Linked DNA regions of Homo sapiens. The protein of the gene in region 2 purifies or fractionates together with the protein of the main gene of each other region. This does not show direct contact. Each region holds a gene or a part of one and is shown on either strand. Other genes may lie near its edges.

Region 1 (3,500 bases), on a different chromosome or scaffold from region 2:
AAGCAAAAATGAGTCTATTTCTTAACTTCAATCTTATCAGGATGACAAATGAACTACCAGAACATCACATTTTGAGAAACAAGCGAAGGTTCTATAGTTACCATTAGAACAGAACCTAGAGGTTGTTAAATAAAGGTTAGTATTCTGACAGACTTTACAGTTTTGGATAACAACTATTCCTGGCTTCATTTTTGTACTCGTTTTTGTTTTCCTTTTTTTGACTATCTTCCCTCCTAATTTATCTTGGGAAACTGCCTTAAATCAAAGCAAGTTCACTGGCAGTCTGTCATTATCAGTGGTGGGGGGGAATTATATTGGGAATATGATTAACATACAACAGTAGAGTATACATTTAAAGAATAATGTAAGTGAAAAAAGTTAAAGCAAAATTTTGCGACTCTTTGGGCATCACACATGCTTAAGTCTTGGATTACTAATCATTTACATCTTGTAAAGTTGGTATCATCAATAATCTATAAGTGAAAGAAAAAAGAATTTATAAATTATAATTTTAGTTTTTTTAGACAGAATTTGGACTTTCTCAATAAAAATGGGACAGAACAGATACTGAAATGGAAAATGAATTCTGTACCAAAAGTATTATTTTGATAAGTAAGATATAGATATACATAAGTAGTAAGATATAGATAGATCTTAGAATCTTTTTAAAAGAATTTTCTCTTGGGATAATTTTTAAAAATCCAAAGTTAATATTGTTTTTACCTCCAGCAAGCTCTTCAAGACTTGGTACATGAAAAGAAAACTCAGCACAAGCCATTTTCTTTCTTCTTTAGGTGTGAGGTTGGACAAATAGAGCTACTCTTGGTTAATTATCACAAGAGTCCACAGCGCACCAAGTATGAACAGTTTCTGTTCTGGAAATGAACATTGAGCATTCAAACATATAAACAGAACAAAAGGGCATTTAGGTTTCTATCTTCATAAACAGGCAAACACAGCTTCCAGCATTTAATATTCCAAGTGAGAAATAGACAAGTGGCCTTTTAATACTTACACTTTATTTTATTGTAATTTAAAATTTAAAACTAATTTTTTAATAGAAACAAGGTGTTACTATGTTGCCCAGGCTGGTCTTGAATTCCTGGCCTCAAGCCATCCTCTGCCTCCCAAAATGCTGGGATTACAAGTGTGAGCCACTGCTCCCAGCTGATTCATTTTTTTTTTAAATATCATATAGCTGGAGTGAACATCCAATTTTCTAATGGTGGGTCTAAGGAATATAGGTCTTGAAGCAAAAGGTACTTATTAGGGGTTTATGGATAAGTGTTCAAATGGTTGTAGATAACAGTACATATAGGATTTGTATAGTACATATAGGATCTCAAGTATTTCTGTAATAGATATGTGTGTTTTTTATTCTATATTTCACATTTAGGCCAAAAATTAAATGAGTTCCTTAGACTATCACTTTTTCAAAATAAAATTTAAATTACGAATAGAAATGGAAACTTTTATGGAATGATTAGCCTTTGAAATTCAAATTTTTATTTTCATTTACAAATAAACATACTTTCTTGGTAAATAGATTTAATGTTCAATTCTGATAATCTATCCAATTATAATTTGATATTTAAATATATGCTTTTCTATCATTGCAACTAAAAAATAAAATATATGCCAAGTATACTTTGTAACAAATAAGTGCACATACACAGAGATTAGTATCTTACCTTAAGTGTTCAGTGATGAAGTATGCAACCAGAGGGAGATAAAATGAAGACAGGGAAAAATATAAGTAATATGAGGTAGACAGGTATCCTACTCCAAGCCAATCACAACAGGGAACACAGACAAGACTCTTAAGGGTGTTTCTAAGAGTACTGCAGGAGTTCTCGTTAAAACTGTTAATAGAACACTTCATTAATCTGAGTGGCCTCTGCCCTTAACATGCCTATTTAGCAAGTGGAACGGTGATCTTCAGCCATTTGAAATATTCTTCCAAATTTTTTTTTCTAATTTTCCAAAGATTCACAGGTTGCTTAGAAACTGGGTTTCTAGTTCTGGTACTTTCCAACAACATATCCTCTATAATCATTCTATTGCAAACATTTAGGATGTTATATTTACTTTAGTACTTTATCAAATACCAGCTTTTATTGTTCTTGATTTAATACATGTAATCTAATCTCCCAAATATATATAACTGTTTATTAACGGTCCCAAATTTTTGAGACGGAGTCTCGCTGTGTCACCCAGGCTGGAGTGCAATGGCATGATCTCGGCTCACTGCAACCTCCGCCTCCCAGGTTCAAGAAATTCTCCTGTCTCATCCTCCCCAGTAGCTGGGATTACAGGCATGTGCCATCATGCCCGGCTAATTTTTTGTATTTTAGTAGAGACGGGGTTTCACCATGTTGCCCAGGTTGGTCTCAAACTCCTGAGCTCAAGCAATCCACTTGCCTCGGCCTCCCAAAGTGCTAGGATTACAGGCGTGAGCCACTGCACCCGGCCCCCAAATCTTATATAATCATACTTAAATTATTTTAAACATAGTTTTGTGTGGGGAAAAGAGAGCTCAGACTGTTACTGTGTCTATGTGGAAAAGGAAGACAAAAGAAACTCCGTTTTGATCTGCACAAAGAAAAATTGTTTTGCTTTGAGATGCTGTTAATCTGTAACTTTAGCCCCAACCCTGTGCTTACAGAAACATGTGCTGTATTGAATCAAGGTTTAAGGGATTTAGGGCTGTGCAGGATGTGCCTTGTTAACAATATGTTTGCAGACTGTATGCTTGGTAAAAGTCATCGCCATTCTCCATTCTCTATTAACCAGGGACATGATGCACTGCAGAAAGCTGCAGGGACCTCTGCCCAAGAAAGCGTGGGTATTGTCCAAGAATTCCCCCCACTGAGACAGCCTGAGATATGGCCTCGTGGGAAGGGAAAGACCTAACCGTCCCCCAGCCTGACACCCATAAAGGGTCTGTGCTGAGAAGGATTAGTAAAAGAGGAAGGCCTCTGTTTCCCGCATATCCCTGGGAACAGAATGTCTCCGTGTAAAGCCGACTATTCGTTCTATTCTGAGATAGGAGAAAACCACCCTGTGGCTGGAGGGGAGATATGCTGGCAGCAATACTGCTCTGTTACTCTTTGCTACACTGAGATGTTTGGGTAAAGAGAAACATGAATCTAGCCTACTTACACATCTGGGCACAGTACCTTCCCTTGAACTTATTTATGACGCAGATTTCTTTACTCACATGTTTTCCTGCTGACCTTCTCCCCACCATCACCCTGTTCTCCCACCGCAGTTCCCTTGCCGAGATAGTGAAAAGTAATCAATAAATACTGAGGGAACTCAGATACCAGTGCCGGTGCAGGTCCTCGCATACTGAGTGTGCCCGTCCTCTGGGCCCACTGTTCTTTCTCTATACTTTGTGTCTTATTTATTTTCTCAGTCTCTCTTCCCACTTGACGAGAAATACCCACAGGTGTGGAGGGGCAGGCCCCCTTCAGTTTTGGGTTGAATAATTTATAATT
Region 2 (3,500 bases):
GTGTGGTCACCATCCTCAGTCCTTGCCTGCCACCTCACACTGGCCTCCAGGACCCCCTTCCTCTGCGTCCTCCTCCCTCCCTAGCTGCTCCTTCTTAGTCTCCTCACACCGGTGGGCTCCCCACAGTCTCCCTCCTGAGGGGACCTCCTGCAGTCCCAGAGCCTCAGATAACTTCAACTACCCATAGCTCCCTTACCTTCCACAACCAGGCCAGACCTCTCCTGACCTCCACACTCAGCAACCCAGCAGCCTCCCTGCAGCTCCACCCTACAGGCACCTAAAGCCAGCTCCACCTACAGTCCCCCTGTCTCAGTTGAGGGCCATTCTCCCACTGCTTGGCCTAAAGAAACCCTGTATAATCCTCGAACCCTCTCTCTCCCACACGTCACGTGTCCAATTCATCAGCAAACATGGCCGGAACCTGACACCTCCTCACCACAAGCCCCTATTACCACCATTCCTCCCCGGGTCCCTGCAGCAGCCTCCCGACAGGCTTCGCTGCTTGGCCTTGCACCCTTCACTCCATTCTCGGCACCACAGCCAGGGATTCTGCACAGCCTCCTCTGCTCAGGGCCCTCCACTGGCTTCCTCTTTTGCTCAGGATAAATACCCAGCTCCGGGAAGTCATCAGCAGGGCCCTCTCCCCTCTCTGCCCTCACCTCCCACTCCTCTTGCTCACTCCACCTGCTCCACATGGTCCCCCTTCACTGTTCTCAGTCGTGCTGGGAGCCCCAGGCAGGCCTCTGCCCCTGCATCTCCCTTTAGGTTTTTAAATCAAATGTCACGACCTCAGTGGGGACTGGCCCAAGCACCTCCCGGTGGACCCTACCATCACTCCCTACCTGTTTCCAGCTTGATTTTCCTCTACAGGATTTCCCATCTGATACAGATTTTATTTCATTGTTGTTTACTGTCTGTCTCCCCAAATGAGAAAGTGCAGCCCATGGAACACACTCTGCAGTGCCCTGCCCCCCACCGTGGCCCCACACCTGCTCCACCACCTGACAGACTGACCCATGCGGGAGCGCGATTTACATCTGTTGAATGAATGAGTAAATGAATGGCACCCAGTTTTATTGTTATGACTGTTTCTTATGCCAGGCTTTGGAAAACACTGGATTGGGTGCTCCCGAAGGACCCTCCCAACTCTGACGTTCCACATTCCCACGTACAAAGACACCAGGTTTCTACACCGGTAGAACCTCCAGAACTGGATGTTTGCCAGAACTCAGGAAACCCTCTGACAGTGTCTTTTAAATTCCCACCAGGGGGCTCTTTTGAGGAGGCGAAAGCCCCACGCAGGGAGGAACGACCAAGTGTTCCCATAGCTTTGTTTCCCCACAATCCCCTGACTGCCCTCATCTAACTGGCCTCTGAGGGACCCCAGCCTGCCTTACCTGCTACCAGGTGGGCCCGGCTCCGGGAGCACAGAACCGCATTGAACTTGGACTCGTCTGTTCCCAGGCGGTTCTCCCCGGCCGCATACAGCTCCTGGAGAGAGAGGAAGACGCACATGTGGCACAGGCCACACCCAGACCCCAGGCCCAGGTCACCCAGGAGAGCCTGGTAAACTTCTGAAGGTTTGAGCCTAAAGTATTTGCCAATTTGCAACCTCTGAACTAGATGGCCTCTAAAGTGCCTGCTAGGCCTCAGGTAGCAGCCCTGAAAAAGAGCAGAAAGCAGCAATCAGGGGCTGAGATCCCACAGGTCAAGATGAGGCCAAAGCAGCTCTGGACTGAGAAGGCAGAGCATGAGACAATTTTTGCCCCGCTAAAAGTGGCATGCAAAACTCTCGCTGGAGCAAAAGCCAGAGCCCTGAGCCCCAGGCGTGTCCAGCCCTGACTCCCAGAATGGGAATGGATGTTACCAGCCAGAGAGACACTGAATAAGGCAGACCCTGCAGGAGCAGCAGGTCTGAGACCAGGGCAGAGGCAAGTGCTGACTGGGCACAGAAGACCGAGCCAGGAGTATAGGCCCTTGTCCGGGCTCTGCTTCTAGCTTTCAGTTGGGAACAGTGCTCAACCTTTTTGAGCCTCAGTTTCCTCCTCCGGAAAAGGAGGACCAGCAAAAGGACCAGACCAGAGGAGTAGCTCTCCTCCAGCCCTAACAAGGGGGCATTCCTTGAGGTCTCATTCCAATCCCGCAGATGGTAGAGATAATTTAGACCACTGGCAGCTCCTGGTGAATGCCCTGCCGTGGATGACAAGAGCAGTGAAGGGAGACAGAGAGGTATGGCCAACTCCACCCCACCAGGAAGTAATGGCTCTGCCCTGCCATAATACTACGGTTGAAATTCATTAGTGGGAAACCCAAACTTTTCGAGAGAGTAGCTCAGATGCCTGGACTTTGCTTGGACTTTTCCCCTTTTGTCTGCAACTCACAAGAGGGACAACGACAGAATTCTAAGGGTGCTCAACTAATGTGGCAGCTGGTTTCTAGGCTCAAATCCTCAAAAACTTAATAAGCAAGTGCAAATTTTGCCCCTTTGCAAACATAATGCTATGTGCAACTAAACATGGGGAAAGTACGCTGTCACACAAAATCCCACGTCCAAAACCATGATCTATCAACTATCGAAATACTAATTATCTCACATGTTCCCTCCTATAGGTGGGGAAGCTGAAGCCCTGGAGGTCAGATTACCTGTTCTAGGTCATACAGTTGAACAGTTCAGCGCGTCTGAAACTCACAGCATCTGCAACCCACTGCTTATCTATTGTTCTTTCCACCCTAGGGTACCTCTCTCAGGAAGCAAGAAAGCGGGGTGCATCCCTGCTTTAGGAAGTCCAGGGGCTTGGCCATCACACTCACCTGGGCATCTCTCTGGGCGAGTGACATGTCCACGTTTGTGCTTTCATCACGGTTTCCCTGAAAGGAAGCAGGTGTATGGTCATGCCCACTCCTTCCCCATTTATTTTCCCTTTCCTCATTGCGGGGATCCCATCTCTTTGACTTCCATGGCTTGGGGGCCCCGAGCCCTGTCGTGGGAAAAGTACCTGAGAGAGAGAGATGAGGAGCCGCTGGAAGTGCCCTGATGTGTCGCTTCGAATGGCCTCTTCCAGGGTCTTTTTGAATTCTGAAAGGGAGAAGCAAGGAAGGTCCATCCTGTAGCTCTCTTTATGGAGCTGCCCATTGCAAAACACTATCAAAAGTGGGTACTGGGGAGAAAAAGGCTGGAGGTCTTGGCTCGGGCTCAAGAGAACAAATAGCCCATATGGCCCTCCAGGGATATACAAGCCTGTGACCTCCAGGCTGACCTGGCCTCTAGTCAGCCTTGGCCCAAACCACATCCAGGTTTTCCCTGCCTCTCCCTTACATTAGTCATTTGCACCATGTATAAACAGAAGGAAGGGCTGGGTCTTGGGTCAAAGCCCAAAGTATTGGGGGTGGCAGAAGATGGGTTGATAAGAAGGCCAGGAAGGAGTAAAAGGCCCTAGGAGAGAATGAGGCCACAGCCCCAAGAGCACAGGGATCTGCAGAGGGCAGAGGGCAGAGGGCAG
Region 3 (4,134 bases), on a different chromosome or scaffold from region 2:
AGTTGAACCTGGGAGTTGGAGGTTACAGTGAGCCAAGATCGCGCCACTGCACTCCAGCCTGGACGACAGAGTGAGACTCAGTCTCCAAAAAAATAAATAAATAAATAAATAATTTTCCTTGTTCGAGTTACTAGTGTTGTTTCCATGTCCTGTCTGGACCCTGATGGATACATAGTTCCTGCTTATGGTCTGGTGGGACGCAGCAGTAAAGGATCCAAAGCACATTATAATCTATGAAGCTCTGCAAAACTTCAGGAATTATTAGTGTAGGGAAAAGAAAGAGCGATCAGATTATTACTGTGTCTGTGTAGAAAGAAGTAGACATAGGAGACTCCATTTTGTTCTGTACTACGAAAAATTCTTCTGCCTTGAGATGCTGTTAAACTATAACCTTACTCCCAACCCCGAGCTCTCTGAAACATGTGCTGTGTCCACTCAGGGTTAAATGGATTAAGGGCTGTGCAAGATGTGCTTTGTTACAGATGCATGAAGGCAGCATGCTCCTTAAGAGTCATCACCACTCCCTAATCTCAAGTACCCAGGGACACAAACACTGCGGAAGGCCGCAGGGACCTCTGCCTAGGAAAGCCAGGTATTCTCCAAGGTTTCTCCCCATGTGATAGTCTGAAATATGGCCTCGTGGGAAGGGAAAGACCTGACCGTCCCCCAGCCCGACACCCGTAAAGGGTCTGTGCTGAGGAGGATTAGTGCAAGAGGAAGGAACGCCTCTTTGCAGTTGAGACAAGAGGAAGGCAGGCATCTGTCTCCTGCCCGTCCCTGGGCAACGGAATGTCTCGGTATAAAACCCGATTCTATGTCCCATCTACTAAGATAGGGAAAACCGCCTTAGGGCTGGAAGGGGGACAGGCGGGCAGCAATACTGCTCTTTAAGACATTGAGATGTTTATGTGTATGCATATCTAAAGCACAGCACTTAATTCTTTACCTTGTTCATGATGCAGAGACCTTTGTTCACGTGTTTATCTGCTGACCTTCTCTCCACTATTATCCTATGACCCTGCCACATCCCCCTCTCCGAGAAACACCCAAGAATGATCATAAATACTAAGGGAACTCAGAGGCCGACGGGATCCTCCGTATGCCGAACGCTGGTCCCCTGGGCCCCCCTACTTCTTTCTCTATACTTTGTTTGTGTCTTTTTCTTTTCCAAGTCTCTCGTTCCACCTAACGAGAAACACCCACAGGTGTGGAGGGGCAACCCACCCCTTCAATTAGTAATGGCCTGCCCGAACTTCCCATCCCACCTCTGCTCCAGAGTCTGAAAATCCTACCATTAGAGAGCTATCTCTTTTGGGTGTTTCCTGTAACAACGCAAATGTCTCCAGAAAAGGCAACAATGACAAACCCTGGCCTCTGATGAAGGCCTGTTTGGCTCAGGGTTAACTAAAAGGAAAACTCAGATGTCCCATTCCTTGATCTATCCTAAATATAGTGAGAAGCACTAAATTTAACCCTGAAGGCAGCCTGCTAAATAGTTATAGAATCTGAAGGGAAACTAAAACAGGAAATAAAAGCTGGGATTATTCTGGGGCAAACAGATATTTTGAGCTGTTATCAGAACAGCAGATAAATCCACTAAACGTCTCCCCTCCATTTCCCAGCGTTAAGCCATTCTCCCTCCTCAGCTTCCCAAGTAGTTTGGGACTAAAGGGGCGTGCCACCACACCGGGCTAATTTTGTATTTTTTAGTACAGACAAGGTGTCGCCATGTTGCCCAGGCTGGTCTCCAACTCTTGACTCGTGAACTCAAGCGATCCTCGTGCCTCAGCTTCCCAAACTGTTGGGATTACAGGCGTGAGCCACGTGCCGGGCCATGTCTGTGCTTCCGAGGGTGGGAAAGATAAAGCTCACCATGGCTACGCTGATGGCTTCCTCTCCTACACATCTCACCCACAAGGGCGGGGTCCTCAACTAAGCTTAGGACTGCCTATCATTCTGCAAATGACCCACTCTACAGACATGCTGCAGCAGGGAAACCCCGCCACTGGGCAGTTCCTCATGCTGAGGAGGAGACGCCCGTCACTCCATCTCATCTGTAAAGTGAAGACTTTTAAGGCTGCCCTAATATTCATCATAATCTAACAACGAAGACCTTACCAAGGGGCGGAAAAAAAGAATAAAATACTGTGAGCGAAGGAAACAACAAAGGAATAACATTTAAAGCAATGTGCCAGGTCCTTCACACATTAACATCATTGTGTGAGGTATCATTAACATCATTTTACAAATAAAGAAACAGGGGACTTGCAGGGGGAAAGCTGCACAAAGTCACTGAACAAAGTAAGTGACACAGCAAGAATCCAAGTCAAAATCTGGAGCTGGAAAGTGAGTGGGGAGACGAAGAACCGCCTGGGCACCTTTGTGCAGGGCGGGGCTGGAGGAGGTCACGCAACTTGAAAACACCCAAGGGAGTTGGATCCTACCACCGCGGCCCACACCGTGGAGAAATACACGTCCATCAGCCTCTGTCAAGCAGGACGCGGCGGGTGCCGGCGCGGCCGGGTGGCCTGGTGCTTTCTGGGCCTCGCCCGCCACCCCGGAAGCCTGGAATCCCGGGAGTGCGCCCGGCCGCCCGGCCACGCGATCCCGGACCCACGCGGACGCCCGCCTCAGGGAAGGCCGCGCACGGCGGGGACGCGGGGCGGAGGGGCTGAGCCGGCCGAGCCACCGCCGGCGCCGCTCCAAAGCCTCCCCCGCGGCCCGAACTCGAGCTGCAGCGCGCGGCCGCGCCACTTACAGGTCATGACTCTGCAGACAAGCACCACCTGCGGCGCGGACTGAGCGCTGGAGATCCGGCGGACCGCGGCGTCGCTACGGTGGGGCGGGGACCGCGTCAGAGGCCCCGCCCCACCCCTCCTCCTGGCCCCGGCCGGGAGGAGAGAAGGGTCTGCGTTCATTCCAGTGCGCCTGTAACACCAGGACGGACCAACGAGAAATGGTTAATTGCAACACAGTCCGGAAAAAGCATGCCTCGAAAGGCAAAGGGCAAAAGGGAACGGCCTAAGTCGAGGTGGTGTGCTGGTGAATGTCTTAACAACCAGACTTTTCAGGGAGGAAAGCCCTGATTTGTAGCGTTTGCTGATTCTCCGCAAAAGGACTGAACTTCTAGCTGGTTGAATCACCTCTGTGGCCAGGTTAACACCGTATGCTGATGGGCTTGAGCTATTTGAACAAGTCTCTGTGACGGGGACGGAATGACCCTGGTTGGTTTAGGCACGCGAGACGTCTGTAAAATCTGACTACAAGGCTGCTAGGCCAACGGGAAAGATGCTGAGGGTTCAACGCCATGCCCTCAACAAGTCAGTCCTCGAATACATTGTCATCTCTTTGCTAATATCCTTTTTTGTTTGTTTGTTTTAGACAGGGTCTCACTCTGTCATCCAGTCAGGAGTGCAGTGCAGCAGTCTCAGCCCATTGCAGCCTCAACCTCCCGGCTCAAGCGATCCTCCGTCCTCAGCCTCCCAAGTAGCTGGGACTACAGGCACACACCACCACACCTAGCTATTTCTTTTCCTTTTTTCTTTTTCTTTCTTTCTTTCTTTTTTTTTTTTTTTTAAGTTTTTTACTTTTAATAGAGGTGGGGCCTTGCTATTTTGCCCAGGCTGGTCTCAAACTCCTGAGCTCAAGACCCTACTGCCTTAGCCTCCCAAAGTGCTGGAATTATAGGCGTGAGCTGCTGCGCCCAGCCTATAGACTATGATTTTTGCATTTTTATTTATTAGATTGCTTTTTAATTTTCGTGTTTTGTGTTTTTGTGCCTTGTCAGACTTGTGGAACAAAAATCCAAAACTTAACCACCTTTTGGAATGCCCCAGAATAGTTTATACTGAAACAGATCTTGGTTTGTAAAAGAACACTATAAAAACATTTTGGGGGCAACTAGGGAGATTTAAATATGAACGAGATATTTGATGCTTTTCTGAATTATTTTGTGTGCTATAGTGTTGTGCTTGTGACAATTCTTTACTCTTAGAAAATGAGGAAGTATTAGGGATGAACCATCAGAATGTTTGACTTGAAAATCGTCAGCAAAAAGAAAACACATAAGATAAAGCAAATATGGCAAAATGTTAATTATTAAATCTAGGAGGAGGACACAGCTGTTCATGGTAC
Region 4 (2,560 bases), about 44 Mb from region 2:
GGTGACAGCGAGACTCTGGGGAAAAGGATGCTTAGTAGAATGCTTAGTGCTGAGAAATGACATGGTGAATTGACTGTCTTTCAGGTGTCTGCAGTGCTGTGTGATGATGACATCATGCTGACCATTAAGCCAGGGGAGCATGGGTCCACATACGGTGGCAATCCACTAGGCTGCCGAGTGGCCATCGCAGCCCTTGAGGTAAAGACTGATACAGCCACACAGTGTCTATTCTTTAAAGCAATGTTGAAGTGATTTTTAATTTGGGCCCACTGGTATAATAAAAAATTCAATAAGAATGCCAAATATTAGAAAACATGAAGTATAGAGGAAAAATTTTAGGAACAAGATATTCTCAAAAAGTAATTTAAACTTGGCCTAGTAGACTGGATTTCCTCCGTGGGCTTCCTGAGTTCACAGTCACCTGGCGCTTTGAGTTCTTCGGCCCTGGCTGGCCCTCATAGAACTCTCAACTGTGACCCACCTACCAGACCCGTCTTTTTGCTTAGCAAGCAAGTCTTCTTTCAAGTGTGGATTTATAATGTTTTCAGACTGATTTTTTAAGTGCCTGCTGAAGGTATACAATTATTATGTAATCTCTGAGGACAGATCTTTGTGAGGGGGGAAGAAACTATTGCAGTTTAGGAATTACATTTCGTCCATTGATGTATTCAATTAATGACAGTATGTGAGTTGCATTAAATAAACTTTAATCCTTATTTTGCCATGAATGATTGGCAATAGATTTGTGATGAAAGCAAGACTCTGAGCTAGTGTATGTTTAATTAGAAACTAATACAGGCTTTGAAAAATAGCAATGAAAGTTAAGTTCCTCTGGTATTTTATCTAGTCATGTTTTTCCTGTGTTTACAGTCCCCGTTGTCCTCCAAAAAACAAAAAAAGGACAGTCTTAATATTTGTATAATTTTTCTTTAAACGTAGGTTTTAGAAGAAGAAAACCTTGCTGAAAATGCAGACAAATTGGGCATTATCTTGAGAAATGAACTCATGAAGCTACCTTCTGATGTTGTAACTGCCGTAAGAGGAAAAGGATTATTAAACGCTATTGTCATTAAAGAAACCAAAGGTATGGAGATAAAACATTTACTCAAGATAATTTTTTAAGGAAGACCTAAAATACACTTGGTATTTAATTTAATTAATTTATTTATTTTTCGAGACGGAGTCTTGCTCTGTCTCCTAGGCTGCAGTGCCGTGGCGCAATCTTGGCTCACTGCACTCTGCCTCCTGGGTTCAAGCAATTCTCTGCCTCAGCCTCCTGAGTAGCTGGGATTACAGGCGCCTGTCACCACGCCCAGCTAATCTTTATATTTTTAATAGAGATGGGGTTTCATAATGTTGGCCAGGCTGATCTCAAACTCCTGACCTCGTGATCCACCTGCGTTGGCCTCCCAAAGTGTTGGGATTATAGGCGTGAGCCCACCGCGCCCGGCCACACTTTTTTTTTTTTTTTTTTTTTAAGATGGAGTCTTGCTCTGTTGCCAGGCTGGAGTGCAATGGCGCCATTTTGGCTGACTGCAACTTCCGATGCCCCGGTTCAAGCGATTCTCCTGCCTCAGCCTCCCGAGTAGCTGGTATTACAGGCACGTGCCAACACGCCCAGCTAATTTTTGTATTTTTGGTAGAGATGGGGTTTCACCATGTTGGCCAGGGTGGTCTCGATCTCCTGACCTCGTGATCCGCCTGCCTCAGCCTCTGAAAGTGCTGAGATGACAGGCATGAGCCACTGCTCCTGGCCACACTTGGTATTTTAATTGGGTGTTGGGATGTTCTGTTTGAAACTGCTGACTGACATAATGACCAAACCTTTTAGACAGATTATTGTCTGATTTATAATTATATTAAGAGTATAAAAAATATAGCTCTTTTCTAAATGAAGGCACATTTAACCAATTTGACCCTTGTTCCTTTAAGACACTTATTTTTCTGCCTTAAATTAGTCATGCAGTATTTAGAGAGTTCAAGTTTTTTTGTTGGTGAGTCTGGACTTGAAAGTGTCCTCTTTGCTATCCTTCCCTCCCTCACTTTGATGCTTTGTGTCAGTAGAGGTTATAGGAGCAGCAGAAATAATGATATGAATGACAGTTATGGGGTCAATAATAAAAATAATGCTGGCTGTCACTTAATTGGGTGTTTGATGTTTTAGTACATCCTTTGTAACCCTTAGGTGTTCCTTGCTGGATTTTCTTGTGATAACTCTTCCTTTTAAAGCAACGATTCCAACCTCCCAACCTTGGCTGCACTTAAAGAATCACCTGAGGGGCCGGGCGCGGTGTCTTATGCCTGTAATCCCAGCACTTTGGGAGGCCGAGACGGGTGGATCACGAGGTTAGGAGATCGAGACCATCCTGGCTAACACAGTGAAACCCCATCTCTACTAAAAATACAAAAAAATAGCCAGGCGAGGTGGTGGGTGCCTGTAGTCCCAGCTACTCAGGAGGCTGAGGCAGGAGAATCGCTTGAACCTGGGAGGTGGAGCTTGCAGTGAGCTGAGATTGCGCCGCTGCACTCCAGCCTGGGCGGCAGAGTGAGACTCCGTCTC

The links. Proteins that work in one complex are often made in the same cells at the same time.
Region 1: the proteins of ANXA11 (region 2) and C11orf54 fractionate together in Homo sapiens (co-fractionation; one large-scale study listed by BioGRID). This does not show direct contact.
Region 3: the proteins of ANXA11 (region 2) and NIT2 fractionate together in Homo sapiens (co-fractionation; one large-scale study listed by BioGRID). This does not show direct contact.
Region 4: the proteins of ANXA11 (region 2) and OAT purify together in Homo sapiens (affinity purification with mass spectrometry; one large-scale study listed by BioGRID and IntAct). This does not show direct contact.

Annotation. Positions count from the first base shown.
Region 1 is NC_000011.10:93,744,672-93,748,171, reverse strand, and holds part of C11orf54 (ester hydrolase C11orf54), read right to left. Parts: exon of another isoform or gene 1,692-3,500; intron 876-1,691; 5' UTR 779-875; coding exon 724-778; intron 1-723. UniProt on the Homo sapiens protein: Exhibits ester hydrolase activity on the substrate p-nitrophenyl acetate, in vitro. Regulates DNA damage and repair by regulating HIF1A degradation via chaperone-mediated autophagy (CMA).
Region 2 is NC_000010.11:80,160,538-80,164,037, forward strand, and holds part of ANXA11 (annexin A11), read right to left. Parts: intron 3,077-3,500; coding exon 2,997-3,076; intron 2,869-2,996; coding exon 2,812-2,868; intron 1,492-2,811; coding exon 1,398-1,491; intron 1-1,397. UniProt on the Homo sapiens protein: Binds specifically to calcyclin in a calcium-dependent manner. Required for midbody formation and completion of the terminal phase of cytokinesis.
Region 3 is NC_000003.12:100,333,423-100,337,556, reverse strand, and holds the start of NIT2 (omega-amidase NIT2), read right to left. Parts: upstream 2,801-4,134; 5' UTR 2,766-2,800; coding exon 2,759-2,765; intron 1-2,758. UniProt on the Homo sapiens protein: Has omega-amidase activity. The role of omega-amidase is to remove potentially toxic intermediates by converting 2-oxoglutaramate and 2-oxosuccinamate to biologically useful 2-oxoglutarate and oxaloacetate, respectively.
Region 4 is NC_000010.11:124,399,364-124,401,923, reverse strand, and holds part of OAT (ornithine aminotransferase, mitochondrial isoform 1 precursor), read left to right. Parts: intron 1-84; coding exon 85-198; intron 199-939; coding exon 940-1,084; intron 1,085-2,560. UniProt on the Homo sapiens protein: Catalyzes the reversible interconversion of L-ornithine and 2-oxoglutarate to L-glutamate semialdehyde and L-glutamate.